4 linked regions of the Homo sapiens genome follow. The protein of the gene in region 2 purifies or fractionates together with the protein of the main gene of each other region. This does not show direct contact. Each region holds a gene or a part of one and is shown on either strand. Other genes may lie near its edges.

Region 1 (3,500 bases), on a different chromosome or scaffold from region 2:
TCTACCCTCAGGATCATAGCAGAGAGGGTACACAGGAGGTGCTCATCTCACTCATCTCTGTATCTCTAGCACTGAGGACATTGCCTGGCATACAGTAGGTGCTCAGTTTTTGTTGAGTGTGGTGGGAACAGCCAGCGAGGAGACTGACTATGATAAAAAGCAGATGTGGGAAAATGAAAGCAGGAAGCAAGGGTGAGCATTTTTCTTTCTCCAGATAGATTCAGGAATTCTGGAGGCTGCATAATAGAACCCCCTTTTGCCTATTGCCACAGCATTCCCATAGTTTTCCCTATTCCTGTAGTGTTAATTCTATGTATTTCTCTGGCAAACTAGAGATATACCAAACACCCACAGAACTCTAATTTTTCCTCCCCTGAATGGTGAGGTCTTGAGTCAAAGGTCTACATGGCTGAGGTTGAATGAGATGTGCTACCCTGAGTCTATGGTCTATGTCCTTATTCAATTCTGTGAGAGATCAAAGAAGATGTAGGCTTTGCCTTCAAGGGGCTTTCAGTCTGGTAGCAGAGATTAGACACGAACACAAATGATATAGGAAAGAATATAAAATTGCTATCAATTTTTAAAAGCTATGGAAGAACAAAGGGAAAGATTAGTATTCTAGATGATGAGATAGGGCAGGACAGGGCACAACAATCAGGGATAGCTGTAAGTGGGGCGTGACATAATCTAGTTGAAGGACTGGCAAGATTCCAATTAGCAAAAATGTGAGGAAGGCATTCCACGTGGATGGACCGGCAAAAGCAAAGGCACAGAGGTAGGCAAGTACAGACTATGTTCAGGGAATGAGTCAGCTGGAACTGAGGGTATGGTAAAATAAGTTATGCAGAAAAGACCTCAAAAGAAGGGCAGCATTAGATCAAAGAGGGGCCAGCTAAAAGGTTTGGTCTTTTTTATTACCCACCCCTATAAGCAGTGAAGAGCTAATTAAGGTTTTTGAGTACAAGAAGGACATGATCAGTGCTGGGCTGTGCTCTCCTTTGAGGATAGAATCATTTCGGTAAGTTGGCATCTATATGGTTTATGGCACTGACCTGGCTGTACGTTCCCTGGTAGAAGACAGGGTGTGCCCTCCCATATTTCTCTTCAAAAGAGTGCATAAATGAAACAATGTCCCCAACGGGGTCAGTGACCCGGCTGCGAGGGTCAGGCCGTATAAAACGAAGAGCAAACCTGGGGAGGAAGGAATAAATATCACATGAATCCAGCTTACTACAGTGCATATCGAGTGGGCCAATTTGTACAGATTCCTGTAACAGAGCCAGAGGCACGGCAACAAAGGGAGGTGAACAGTCTGTGAGTGGACCATCAAATCCGAGAGTAGAGTCTGGTTCAAAAGCCATAAAGCAGCAAGTGTTATTCTATTGCCTGTTCAGGAAGAATGCAAACTACTGGGATTATAAATTCCAACACTGGCCTACATAAATCCTGAGTATTTTTTGTAGAACAATTTAGGGCTAGAAGGGTTTGGAAGGGAAGACACAGTATCCAAAAAGATCATGTGTCAGGCTATGCACCCAGACTCTCTAGAATGGCACCGTCTAAGTACTGTAGCCACTAGTCAAATGTGGCTATTCTGAATTTAAATCTATTACATACAATTAAAATTCAGTTCCTTAGTAATGCTAGCCACATTTCAAGTGCTCAACAGCCACGTGTTTAATGGCTTTCATACTGAACAGCGGAGATACAGAACGTTTCTATCATCACAGAGAGTTCTACTGGACAGTGCTCTAGAACAGAGGTCATTTTCTGGTTGTCCTACTTGCCCCTCCTTCTCCTTTCTGTTTTCCTGGGATTTTAAATATTGAGTTCACAACCCCAAACTATTCAACTTACGGATAGGAACTTCAAATCTGAAGTTGCGGTTATGACTTACTTGCTCTTCAAAGGGGCAAGTACCTTTTGCTTGATGATTTATGGTTGATGGCAACCATGGAGGAAGTTATAAAACTGCTCCACAGTACCCTGGCAGATGTGGAGTACTGGCAGCTCTTGTAAAGTGAAGAATACATACCTAATGGTACCACACATCTGTTTCTAAAGGGCCTACCCTATTTGTATAGTACCATTTATTTATCCTTTGGGTTTCCAGAGAAGGCAACAGGACAGAGGATAATGTGTTACCTAACATTAAACAAGCTGGTTGGATGATACAGCTGCATTAAAATTAGTAATACATGCCGTGCATATTTTCCCTAGAAAAGCAAACAATATTCATTTACTTAAAACGTTTTCAGCACAGACAAGGTGATTAAACTGTGATACTTTTCCTTAACAAAAAGTGAGTCAATTCATTATCCCAACAAATTCCCCCTGTGTATACAATTCTACTTGGAATTTCTCCCGAGTAATCAAACCAAATTCATTGACAACAACGTTCCAGAGCGAATTAAAAGCACAAAATGTAGTAAGTTGTATACGTGGGGGAATGGTTAGAAATTCATCAGAAGACTGATGTTTTAACTACTTTCTTTGAAATTAAGCATTTTAGAATTCTCTCTTAAAGCCTTTATTTTTTTTTCCTCATTACACAATATTCCCACGATCTACACAATTTAGGACAATCAGCTTTTTTGATTTTTTAGAAAAAAACAGAGATGTCAACTTAGTTTTCATTATGATTTTAAAGATTTTTACATGTTCATTCTTAAATAAAATGGGGATGGAAAGAGTACTAAGCAATTAGTGATCATGAAGAATGTTGCTAAACCAAGAAAGCCATTAAGTAGACAGCCTCATAAAACACCAAGGGTCCAATATAAAAGGTACTATCTGACCCTTGTACTTATGCAGCTGCTGGACCCACAACTTCAGCCTCTGCTCCCTAGAGGCAGGGTAAAGGCTGTCCCATATTTGAAGGGAAGTACAGGGAACCTGTACTTCCAGGGAAGGCCCAGACTACATATCCCAGCTCCATCTGCTGGCCTGGATGCCCTTGAACATTTAAGTTCCCCATAAAGCCTAGACATGGCTCTGGACCAGATAACCCAAGCCTGACATGCTAAGAAGTTGTGCCCCACTCATTTTCTTTTCTTTTTCTTTTTTTTTTTTTTGAGACGGAGTCCCACTCTCTCACCCAGGCTGGAGTGCAGTGGTGCGATCTAGGCTCACTGCAAGCTCCGCCTCCCGGGTTCACGCCATTCTCCTGCCTCAGCCTCCTGAGTAGTTGGGACTACAGGCACCAGCCACCGCGCCCGGCTAATTTTTTGTATTTTTAGTAGAGACAGGGTTTCACCGTATTAGCCAGGATGGTCTTGATCTCCTGACGTTGTGATCCGCCCACCTCAGCCTCCCAAAGTGCTGGGATTACAGGCGTGAGCCACAGAGCCCGGCCAGTTGAGCCCCACTCATTTTCTGGCCTTGGACCCTCTGTAGCTTCCAATGATGAGCTCTTTTAATGGTACATGAAGGAAGCTAGAAGAAAGGTGAAGGTATGAAGCAAGTGGGTATATACATAAAAGGGTTCCAGTGTTTGCAAC
Region 2 (4,648 bases):
TGCCATGTTGGCCAGGCTGGTCTCGAACTCCTGATCTCAGGTGATCCACCAGCCTCGGCCTCCCAAAGTGCTGGAATTACAGGTGTGAGACAGCACACCTGGCTGCCAGCTACTTTTTAAAGACCAAACATGAAGGCCTTTCAATGTTCCCCACTGCCCGCAGATTGAAGTTCAAGCAATCACACAAAACGATTTTCCTGATACAAGCCCCAATCTATCTTCCCAACCCCTTTCCCTGCCACTCCCTACCTGTATTCTACAGGTCCAGGCACACGGTTCTCTCTTCCCAAGTTTCTGCTCTTGCTGCTGCTGTTTCTAAATCCACCTAGAACAAGTGGCTTCCTCCATCTTGACCAGAACTGTCCATCAATCTTTCAAGACCTAGCCTCTCATCCAAGAAATTTACTTCCTTTTATTCTGGTAGTTTGGTGAATTGTATTATAATGACTTGTTTGCTTATTAAACAAATATGAGTACCTACAATGGGCCAAGCTGACTGCCTCAGTAGAAAGGACGCATCGTGAAGACAGAGACATCGTCTATTTGCATCTGCTTTGGCTTCCTTCACTGAAAAGCCACAACAGAGTTGGGTTCATATCCTGTCTTTGGCACCTTCTAGCTTTTTTTTTTTTTTTTTTTTGATACGGAGTTTTGTTCTTGTTGCCTAGGCTGGAGTGCAATGGCACAATCTCGGCTCACCGCAACCTCCACCTCCTGGGTTCAAGTCATTCTCCTGCCTCAGCCTCCCGAGTAGCTGGAATTACAGGTATATGCCACCACGCACAGCTAATTTTTGTATTTTTAGTAGAGATGGGGTTTCTCCATGTTGGTCAGGCTGGTCTCGAACTCCCAACCTCAGAAGGTCCACCCACCTCAGCCTCCCAAAGAGCTGGGATTACAGGCGTGAGCCACCGTACCTGGCCGCTGCCTGATTTTAATCAAGGGACTTGAAGCTTAAGTTTCCTCATCTGGAAAATGGGGATAATACTATTTCACAAGTTTGTTTAAACACAAGTTCCCAAATCCAGCTGAACGTCAGAATCAACTTCAAAAGTATGTAGAATGGGAATGAGCCAAGATACCTGCATTTTTTTAAAATCTCAAGTTTAATGCTTATGTATAGCCAGATTTTAAAAACCGTAAATTGGAGGCTTTTTCATAAAGTACCTGGCACATTAATGCTCAGTGCCCAGGTGTGCCCCGAACACGGCGTTCCTACTGGAACAAGCAGAGTTGATGTGAGATAAGGGGACCGTACGGGAAGGAGCCTAGGTTTAAACCACACATATAAATCGTGGGAAAGGCTGGGCACCGTGGCTCAGGCCTGTAATCCCAGCACTTTGAGAGGCCGAGGCAGGTGACTTGCCTGAGCTCAGGAGTTTAAGACCAGCCTGGGCCACATGGTGAAACTCCATCTCGAACAAAAATACAAAAAATTAGCCGAGTGTGGTGGCACACACTTGTGGTCCCAGCTACTCAGGAGGCTGAGGTGGGAGGATCATCTGAACCTGGGAGGCAGAGGTTGCAGCGAGCCGAGATCATGCCACTACACTCCAACCTGGGTGACAGACTGAGATCCTGTCTCAAAAAAACAAAGAAAGAAGAGACAGAGAGGGAGAGAGGGAGAGAAAGAGGGAGGGACAGGGAGGGAAGGTGGGAGGGAGGGTTAAGAAAGAAGTAAACACAGGACATGGTATTCCTGGCCAATTCTGATCACCAGTCACTCTGGAAGGCAAACAAGTGAACTGCCAGTAAACCCATTTGCTCAGCCCAGCCTTCTAAGAAAAAAACAGTATAAAGTCCAGAAAGGAGTAACTTCTTTCAAAGGTTAGTTATTCAGAGTGTTAAGTTACTGCTGAAAGTGTAAGAGGGGCAGGGACCTCAGAAACAGAGTTGGCAATAAACGAAGATGTTGGCAACTGCAACATTGCCTATTATTAGATCCATGTCATTCAAAAGGTAGCTTAGAACACAATGATACTGGCAATGTGTCCTTCTAAATAAGCGGGATCTTTTTCTATTGCTTCAGTATTTCCCCAGTAATAGAAGAGGGACATACATACAACCTGCTTCCTGTCACCTCACCTTGTGATGAGTGAAGTTGGCCTGTCGAAGGCCCAAGATACAGACTGGGATGTTCACCCTCGAGGAAAAAAAAAAAAAAGGGCTCAGGAATGTCATGGCACCTGCTATCTAGTCTGTGTGTGCCTTATGAGGAAACAGGATTAAACTAATTTTATAAAGTTCCAGGGCTCAGATCCATGGGTAGAAGCTATAAAAATGCCATAAAGCATGCTACAATCAGATATGACTCCTCACTCAAAGTTAGCAAGCATCCTCCTTCATTAAAATGAAAACCCAGGAATTCTGCATCCAGGAATTAATCCAGCAAAAAATACTGGGTACTTCCTAAATGCTCTTCAAGAGATAATTGGTTACACAAATTATGTGATATCTAAGAGACAGCAGAGCAGGGACATGGAAACTTAACACAGACAACCTTCAAGTTGCACATTTTAATTTACAATTTTTACCAATAAAAAGGATTAGTTTACAAAAAGGGAAGTCCTTTATACAAAATAAGGATTTTTTTTTTCCATTTGTAAAGAGAATCCACTGTCATGTTTTGCCTTGTCAAGTCAAAACTCAAATAGCTTGTTTTGGTAAAATTATTCCAGAAACATAATCCAGACAAAATCAATAACGTCATCAGCTTCCTAACCATGTTTAAGAGGAATAACTTCATGAACATTTTGCCCTGAACTGAAGAGTTCTAAATACTTGTAAACCTTTAGGAAAAAATGACTGCTCGCAGGCAGCTGACTGGTAAGAGGGTACACCAGAGACTCCGGGTCACTCACTGTCAGAATATTCTTATACATACAATGAGTCTCCACGCCTGTACAATGAGTGTACGTGCAACATAATTGGAGTAATGGCCTCTAAAATTTTACAAGTAAACTTTATTGTGGCCACAGATGAACAACAAAACATGACAGTTAAGGTTCAGACTCTCCCCACCTATTTTATCATATAAATTAAATATGGAGAGGTACACACAAACTCTATTCAAAATGAGAAGTTGTTTGCCAACTCTCATTTCCTAGGATAACACACATCACACTGTTTAAGAGTGGGGGAAAGAATAGTCATACTGTTAGAGCACAATGTTTCCTGAAAAGAAACTGATCAAAACGTTTGAAGCCTTTTTAGTTGCCTCAAAGTGTGACAGCCACTCAATACTGCTCCTAACAGTCTGCTTTCAGATAACGTCATAAAATAAAATAACTGTGTGAAAAGCCATGGCCTTCAAAAAACTTTATTTGGTTATGAGCCAAGCTCTGATAGGAAAAGCCCACCTACGAAAAAAAGGTGTGGGTATTTAAGCTGGTCTGATTCACAGAGCTTGTACATTCATGACTCAAAATAACACACCCTCAAACCCAAATGATTCTAAAGCCATTTCAACCTTAAATCATGTTATTCCCTTAGATGTGCTTACATTAGCTTTAAAAAATGATCTACGTGCAGAGAGGAGCTGCGCCTTCCTCACAATTAATTGAAACATGACCAAAAAACGGGGGATAGGCAAAAAAGTGACATTTAAATAGCGTATGAGGGTCTCTCCTCCTTTACTCAATGAACACATATCCAGAATGAGATTGAAATGGAATCAATGCCCAGGAGCCTCTCAAAGAGAGCATCTCCCTGTAGCCAACATGATCTGGATCCTCCTAACACAAAGCAACCCAACTACTCCAGCTACACAAAGCCAGTAGGCCTACATATGAAACGCAAAGGGGTTGCATCCCCCATGGTTTAAACCTAACCCATGTTAGCTGCAACTCCACTACAGTCTTGATCACTTAGCTCAGGAAACAAACACCCAGCAACAACCCTCGTATCTCATTAATACCAATCTGTGGCCCTCACTGACTCAGTGGTACTTTTTTATAAAAATATCTGAAGAAGTGGCAAACGGTTACAACGGATGTCAGGTCGAAGCAATTCCAAAAGCTGAGAAAACGCTTCATCCGCTGCTTGTCTTCTCCCCCTATTGCTACAGTTCTGCCACCAAAGGGGGAAAATTACGTGAATATGATTGTTGTGACCAAGCCTTGGCAAAAGTCAATAAATAACAGAACCTGTCAAGGGCAGAGCAATTTTATGGGCAACCTCTTCTAGTTGCAAATGTGGGGGTTGGGAAAAGTGGGAGAGAGGCATGTGTGCAAGAAAGAGATAAGGGTCCTTTTGGGAAGGGTTTGGTGACCCAGCCCCAGCTCAATGCCAGCAGACTAGGACCCGCTAAAACCCATTATTCAGACGGAAAGGGGAGAAGAGAAGACACCAAAAAATGTAGTCAGTTTTGCAATTTGCACAGTTGGTATTTGTTCTTCACAGCAGTAAGGACTTGAATGAGAATCGTGAAACTTGTGGAACACTTATATTTTTCTTCGGGATTTAAGAAACTTTGTCTCGTACTGAAAGACTACATTCAGTGTGGGTCAGGTCCAACAGTGTTAGCCAGAACGCAGTTGTTAAGTGCACCCAGCACTGGGAGGAAATGTGGCTTGAGAGGAGCGGCTGCCCGAGGCCGCCCCTTCACTGGTCTCCAAGTCGAAAGCCCTGGCCCCAGTTGTGTCTCCCG
Region 3 (4,051 bases), on a different chromosome or scaffold from region 2:
AGGCCCATAGTTAAATCCCTTGACCATGAGCACATCAAGAATATTATCCTCCTAAAATCATCCTGACCTGTAATGTTCTAATTGGAGAGGCAGAAATAAAGAGTGACCAGAAGAGATAAAAAGCAAACACGCCCAGCCCAATGAACAGAGCTGTCCACGGGGAGGAGAGAAGAGGGCTGCTAGAGCATGGAGTGTTTCAGAGGGAGGAGGAGACGGGCACCCCCATTGCCAGGATCCCCCTGCCACCATCTGCCAACCACTCACACAGCCCACACCCCAGCTGTCATTGCACACCATGAGTTGTGCCCAGCAGAAGTGATGCTGCCCTGCACTGCCTTCAGTCTAGGGAGGTTGACTGTTCTTATTTTACAGATGGGGTGGCTGAAGCCAGAGACTTTGTGACCACCCCTGAAGGCAGGGTCTGAGCACCTGTCTGGGGCCCTGGTATTCTGGTATTGCTAGCACCTCCTTCAAGAAGTCTCTCCCTATCACCACCAGCTCTAGGTTCAGTGAAGGCCAGTTGACTTTGGGCTCAGTTAAGGGTTTTTCACAAACTCCCACTTGCCCCACTCCTGGGCCCTGCTTAGAGGACTCTTAGTGCTAGGAGCACTGGGCCTGGGAGAACCTGAGACTTAGAATCCTGCTGTATGCCTGGTTCTCCCATATCCTCCATATGGGAGAGCTCAGACTTTAGGGGCTGGAACACCCCCCAGACAGTCCCTGGGAAGAGGAGAGCAGCTTCTCTATAAGATTCTTCCCTAAGAGCTGCCTTTGTCTCTCTGCTTCTCCCACATGGGAGGTGGGTTCAGAGATGGTATCTGTGGGTGGAATTGTGAGGTTTGAGCCTTGAGGAATGAGGTCCCAGGGCCAGGTTCCAAGGAAAGTTCTGACAGCAGAAGGGATGCCCTCCTACCTTGACTTTCTCCCCTGTCATTGTCTCCAGCTCACATTCCTCCCCCACCGTGAATTCGTTTTGGATCACTTTGGACCCAGCGGTGATGGTGAACTTGAAGTGCTTCCCATTCTGCACGATTTCCGACACCCCCTTGATATCCTTCCCCTTCTGGATGAGCTCTTCCGGCAGACCTGGTGGAAACCGTCTGAGGTTTAGATATGGGCAGAGGTGGGAGTTTCATGACCGTGGTAGGTAGGTGAGAGAAACGACATGACATGGAGGGACAGAGAAGGGCACTGTGTCTCCCAAGGGGCCACAGAAACTCACTGGGGGCTTGTCAGCAGCATCGGCTGTGGCCTCAGAAAGGAAGGGACAGTGACCTGGCCTGGCCTGCTGCTATCTTGCCAGTCAATTTATAAAAAGGACACTCTTCTGGCCTGAAGAACCGTTCCTCTTGTAAGCACCCTGGTTCTTGCTCACTCTCCTTCCTCATTCCCTCCTCCTTTGATGACTTTGCTCTTGGAGTGTGAGCATTTCATTCCCCATACCCCTGGTGACCAGAGAGTTGATCTTCCAAGCTAGGTCCCTCCTGCAAGTGAAAGGGGAGCTGCTGATAATCATGCCAGGCCAACATACACAAAGCGGCACTGTGCCAGGCAAGCCTGTGTCCACCTCTGCAGTCAAGGCTCTGGAGGAAGACATACCAGCAATCCCTTGCCCTGGGATAGAGCTTTACCAGTTTCAGAACTTGTCTATGCTGTTATACAAATTGAGGTTCACAAAAATTTTGTGGGTGGACAGTGAGCACAGAGGGTCCTGTTGCATGAGGGAGAGATGAGAGACACAGAGGTGGTATGGCTTGCCTGCAGAAGATCCTTCTCTGGCAGCACTGAAGGTCCTTCTCTCCCTGCCCCTGCTGTCTTCAGCACCCTTCTCATTCTTGGCACCCTCCCTTGCCATGCCACACCCTTTGCTTATAGGGCTCCCTCTGCCTGGAGCATGCTCCCTGCCCCCAGTTCCCTAGACACCTGTCTTCCAAAGCTCAGCCTGAGCCTTCTCTTTACCTCCACTGAGCCATCCCCCCATGCTCTCTGTGAGCCACATCCTCCTGTACATGACCCTAGGAGGCACAGGGGTTAAAGCAGGGTCTCTGAGAACCAGTGCCTGCTTCCAATCCTAACTTAAACACTTCCTACTTGCATGACCTTGCTTGTGATTACTAAACCTTTCTGGGCTTCAGTTGCATTAACTGTAAAGTGGGAAAATAATGGTACCCAGCTTAGTTTTTTGGCAAGGAATAGATGGGGTATTGCATATCCCATGGTCAGCACAGTCGCCTGGCACAGTCAGCGCTCCATACACCTGAGGGAATGCCTTATTACCTTTATTTCTTCTCTTCTCTTCCCTGATAAGAAAATGCCTTATTGCCTTTATCATCTGTCTCCCTGGTATCTATCCAGCACAGTGCTCAGTGTGTGGTTGGCCTTGAATCACTGTTTGTTTGAAGAATGAATAAATGCAGGAATAGGATCACACAACGAAGTGCCAATGACATGGCCATCAATCCAGACCACACCCTAGTTCAGTGCTCTTTCCACTTGCCTATGGGGTGGCCTTGTGCAGTGAGGACTTGCTGCAAATAACTCCAGAAGTCAGTAAAATGCCCCCTAGTTTGTGTATATAGCCTGAATCTCTCCCCCCATCTCAACATTTGGACCCTAAATAGCCACTGCTGGTAGAGCTAGACCCTCACTGATGTGACCCACAGCTTTGCCTTTCAGTCCAGCACTCACCGATTGCCTTCATGAAGGCTTCAAAGTTTTCCTGGCTCTGCAGTTGGTACTTGCCGGAGAAACTCATGGTGGCAATAGAGCTCCCTCTTCACGACTGACCTGCGGCTCTGCCGACCAGACTGTCCACTGTAGGCTGTTTTATAGGGGGCTCCCTTCCCTTCGAATAGCGGCCAGAGGTCAGCAGCTGTTGATTCCTTTATGGCCAGGTTCAAACATTAACTCCTGAGAGCAATGGTCAATGATAAAGAACAGGATGGGCACAGCAAAGGTTTGCTGTAATTCAGCAAACATTAATGAATATCAGTCAAGCAGGAAGCCTTATGGCCCTGCAGCCTTTAAGTGACTCTCCGCACCCCACGAAATGTGTGTATATGCAGGTATGTGTATATGTGCACACACATGTGTATGTATATAGATGTGTGCGTATGTGTTTGTACATCGGTGTTTATATATACATATATGTATTTTGTACATAAAGATGTATGAATGTGCATATATGTAATGCATATATACACATTATATGCATGTGTTTATATATGTCTGTACACATATACACACAAGTGTGTGGGTGCATGTGTACACACACAGAAAAATACCAGAGAATTCCTTTGAACTCAAAACCTCACCTTATTTACATAACCTTATGATCTCTTCTCACCCCCATTATTACACAAACTTATTTTTTAGAGTTGTTATCAGCCGCTAGTGTTATTTTGTATTCTGGGAATTCCTCCTTGATGATTATAGGCTCCTCCACAGGCCTTTTTGAGGTGTTAAAGCAGTCCATGCTAAATGGCAGGTGTAAAACATTGAGACGCATTTTATTAGGCAGAGACAAGGCAGGAGAAAGTGGCACCTGCTGACTTGCTCCAGCCCCACTGAGAAGACAGGACAAGGGATCTGGGGTTATGTGTAGGAAACTGGTCTTGTAGGGTTATGTGTAGGAAACTGGTCTTGTAGGGTTATGTGTACAGCACTGGCCTTGGGGAGATGGCCCAGCAGGGCTTCCAGTGGCCTTGGGATGTGCCAGTTTGTTGTGAAGCACAGAGAGGCGTGGTGCCCAATGGGTGCACGTCCCAGTTCCTGCCTCTGAGGCAGCTCCTTACAAGCACCCCCTCACCCCTAGATTCTCTCCCTTCTTTGTCTGGACTTTGGCGTCAACCTTTTCACCTGCAGCCTCCAGCCTTCATCCTCTGGGCCTCCTCTACTCTGTGGTTAGACAGATCATCCTGAAGCATAGGCTGAGTCGGGCCACTGCTCCAGGCATGAGCCTCAGTGGTTCCCATCACTTCAGAGGCCACAGGTCCTGGATGGCCTAGTGTCACGTGACGGGTCATGATGGCCACCCCCAATAACACTTCCA
Region 4 (3,500 bases), on a different chromosome or scaffold from region 2:
GTGAATTTCTATCTTCACGTGACCATCCCCCAAATGACTGAGAGTTGATTACACAGCAGGGTTTTCAAAGAAGGCCCTAGTTCTGACTCTTGCGTGTTTGATCAGGAAGGGATAATAGGCCGGGCATGGTGGCTCACACCTGTAATCCCAGCACTTTGGGAGGCCGAGGGGGGTGGACTGCCTGAGATCAGGAGTTGGAGACCAGCCTGGTCAGCATGGTGAAACCCTGTCTCTACTAAAAATACAAAAATTAGCCAGGCGTCGTGGTGGGTGCCTGTAATCCCAGCTACTCGGGAGGCTGAGGCAGGAGAATCACTTGAACATGGGAGGTGGAGGTTGCAGTGAGCCGAGACCATGCCATTGCACTCCAGCCTGGGCAAGAAGAGCAAAACTCCATCTCAAATTAAAAAAAAAAAAAAAAAAAAAAAAAGGAGGGGATAGATTTTAAAACAGTTTTGTGAAACTTTACAAAAAAATTTACATCTCACATTGAGATGAACCACAAGAAAATGAATTTTAATCATTATGGCTTCATTTCTCCTCAGGAGAGGTTTTTTTCAACGAGCCAGTAGCAGTTGAGGAATGGAGGACCACTTCTCTACTAGCCAGGGTTGTTCATCTCATGGTCAGATGCTCTCCAATGTTACAACAGTGTTACATTTCACAAAACAAGCACAAAATAAATACACAATAGTTAAAATCATGCAAGAAAATAAAAGCATGCAACATCAGTCCACCGCCAGCCAACTGCATTAGAAGTTCCAGTCCACATTCTGGCAGTTTCCAAACAGACAAAGAAAGAAAGAACCCCGGAGGACTCACAAATAGTGCTCTATAGACTGAGGCGGTATTTTCACAAAACACTAGTCCCGACGCTCGCCTCTCTTTTAAGTAGCCACACCCAAAGTTTCCCTCGTAGATGCCCTTAGGGCAGTGGAGCCAGGGGAGAAAGCAGAGAACGGTGGATTGTGGTCAATGAGAGCACCAGGAGCACCACAGACAGTGAGAGGCAGAGCCAAAGGATCCCAGAGCTCGCGGGACGCCCCTTAATCCAGCGCCAAAGGATCCCAGAGCTCGCGGGACGCCCCTTAATCCAGAGCCAAAGGATCCTAGAGCCCGCGGGACGCCCCTTAATCCCGCGCCAGGCACCCCGCGGCTCTGCAAAGATCCTTTGCTTCTGATGGCCACAGCACATTCCATGCACAAAGTGCCCTTTTAACAGAAGATCAATACAGTCTCTCTGGGTTTTTTTTTTTTTGTTTTTTGTTTTTTTTGCTTATGTGACATTATTCAAATTTCAATTTAATGTGACAACACACACAGTTCTAAAGAGGCCTAACCTTTTGTAGTCAATTCACTGATACTATTCTCTCTACCCTAAAATAGAAAACAAATTCACTTCCATCAGGCATTATGGAAGCCTTTACAACAAACATTACCATGGCTAAAAGCAAACAATTCTACTGTATAGAAATTCTGTGGAAAGATTAAATACTTAATGAAATAACTTTTTCCAAATTGAAATTGTAACAGGTAAAGTCACAGACTTTAGACTGGAAGACTGATCAAAGGCTAAGGTAAATAAGAGAAATGTAAGAATTCTTCTAAGAAGTTAAAATCGGTCAAGAAAGCTTCATTGAAATAAACAGTGCAATTATATACAATTACATACAACAAAGAGTACAATCACATCCTCCCAGTATGAAATATAAGTGATCAATCATATCTTAATTGTAGGTAACTTTAAATAAAATGCACGGGTGCACAAGTATTTACTTCATTTCTGTGCAAAGCTCAAGGAAATGCACAGTTCTCAGAACGTGGAAGGTGCTGGAGGAAGCCAAGGGCGTGCATATCGTGAACTATGAAGCGTAGTCTGACCACGGCAAGGCAAGACTACAGGGGATCGAGAGGCCGATAACTGAGGTCCAGGATGTGTGTCAAGAAGTGAGTTAAACGCTTCTTTGCCTTCTTGTCTATCTCCCTGGTAAACACTGACAAAGGGAGAAAAGACACAGGAAGACGATTTATGTACAAATGCACTTGGGTGGATGAGTATTTACTGTGGAGGAGGAATTATGCAATGAACAACTTGGGGAGGAAAGAAACTTCTGCACCGCGTGGCAGCAGTCTTTCTTCCAACAAAAGCGGCTGTGGACACGATGAAATAAACACTGAGTGCCTAGTCAGCAAGTGTATGGGCACTCTAAAATCATCAAACAAGATGACATGACTAAGGACCACACCACTATCCTCACTAGCAGGGTTTAAGGTAGGATGACGGGAGAGCACACTATGCCTCACAAGATGGAATTAGTAAGATCTTCCTTTTCTGTGGTTACGGTTATTACCTATAAAACAACATTTTACATTTTTTCTCTACGAATGAACAATTCTGATACAAACAAAAATATATGCTTCTAGGCACAGAGTGTCTTGTATCTGGCAGTAGGTCATTCCGAGACATGGCTTCCTTTTGTTCTGCGAGAAACATCCCAGGCACCCGGAGGCCAGCTCGCTTGTGCAGCAGCACCATTCTGCCATCTGATGCCCCACGGATCGCCAAGGCCCAGCAGCTCACGCACGGCCCTGCGACAGCCATGAGGAATCTGCATTTTGTAATCAGAGCTGCTTCATTTTATTCCCATTCCAAAGAGAGACAATTTCCATCCTAAGGCAACTAAGTTTTAATGCTTAGTGATTTTCTAGAGAGTTAACCTCTTCTCCTAACCACTATTCATCTTCTTTTCCTATGTACTGCACAAATCCAGCTAAATGTGTAAACAGAAATGTATGCACTCCCAGAGCAAACACTAACTTCTCCCTCTCCACTGCCACTCTCCTGCACTTGGACGTGAAGTGAAAACACAACAAGAAGAGAACAGGTGATGCAGAGTGCTGCACAAAGCAGTGGTTATAAGCAAGAGCAGCTGCTAGGAAATACGCACCCACAGGTGTTACCACTGTGTTACCTACCGGAAGGTTCCTTGCTGAATCCAAGTACAAGATCAGCAATGCAGAGGAAAGACCATCGTTGGCTTGGTCTTTGTCAGCTTTGATGTCTGTTAGCACCTAAAAGGAAAGGAAAAAGCCCTTAGCAGCCATGTTTCCACAGGATTAGATACTATTTCTATCTGATTGTATCATGTTGATTACGCTAAAAATAAGAAAGGTGAGAAACCATCCAATCCATGCAACAGAGACAGAACTAAAACAATAAATGCCTTTTAAATAACAAGACTACTATTCCATATATAAGTCAATTAAATGAAGCACTCAGGTGATTTCTGGCTCTACAAATCCCTGCACTTTAACAAGCTCAAAACTGAAGATCTGATAAAACAGGTATGAAGGACCTATAAATTTCATTTTAAAAACTCCATTATCTTTAATTTATCCCTGATGCTACTGTAGTGACTTATTACACAATAATGAAAATTACTGCTATAATTGTTAAAAAATCAAGTAGCAACACAACTGAGAGACCAAGCTCAGTTATG

What was found.
Region 1: the proteins of DERL1 (region 2) and FAF2 purify together in Homo sapiens (affinity purification with western blotting; 4 studies listed by BioGRID and IntAct, with this or other methods). This does not show direct contact.
Region 3: the proteins of DERL1 (region 2) and FABP1 purify together in Homo sapiens (affinity purification with western blotting; one study listed by BioGRID). This does not show direct contact.
Region 4: the proteins of DERL1 (region 2) and ESYT2 purify together in Homo sapiens (affinity purification with mass spectrometry; one large-scale study listed by BioGRID and IntAct). This does not show direct contact.

Annotation. Positions count from the first base shown.
Region 1 is NC_000005.10:176,489,885-176,493,384, reverse strand, and holds part of FAF2 (FAS-associated factor 2), read right to left. Parts: intron 1,192-3,500; coding exon 1,053-1,191; intron 1-1,052. UniProt on the Homo sapiens protein: Plays an important role in endoplasmic reticulum-associated degradation (ERAD) that mediates ubiquitin-dependent degradation of misfolded endoplasmic reticulum proteins.
Region 2 is NC_000008.11:123,010,845-123,015,492, forward strand, and holds the end of DERL1 (derlin-1), read right to left. Parts: coding exon 4,603-4,648; 3' UTR 2,326-4,602; downstream 1-2,325. UniProt on the Homo sapiens protein: Functional component of endoplasmic reticulum-associated degradation (ERAD) for misfolded lumenal proteins. Forms homotetramers which encircle a large channel traversing the endoplasmic reticulum (ER) membrane.
Region 3 is NC_000002.12:88,125,263-88,129,313, forward strand, and holds the start of FABP1 (fatty acid-binding protein, liver), read right to left. Parts: upstream 2,801-4,051; 5' UTR 2,756-2,800; coding exon 2,689-2,755; intron 1,087-2,688; coding exon 914-1,086; intron 1-913.
Region 4 is NC_000007.14:158,756,510-158,760,009, forward strand, and holds part of ESYT2 (extended synaptotagmin-2), read right to left. Parts: intron 3,073-3,500; coding exon 2,977-3,072; intron 925-2,976; coding exon of another isoform or gene 655-924; exon of another isoform or gene 496-654; intron 1-495. UniProt on the Homo sapiens protein: Tethers the endoplasmic reticulum to the cell membrane and promotes the formation of appositions between the endoplasmic reticulum and the cell membrane. Binds glycerophospholipids in a barrel-like domain and may play a role in cellular lipid transport.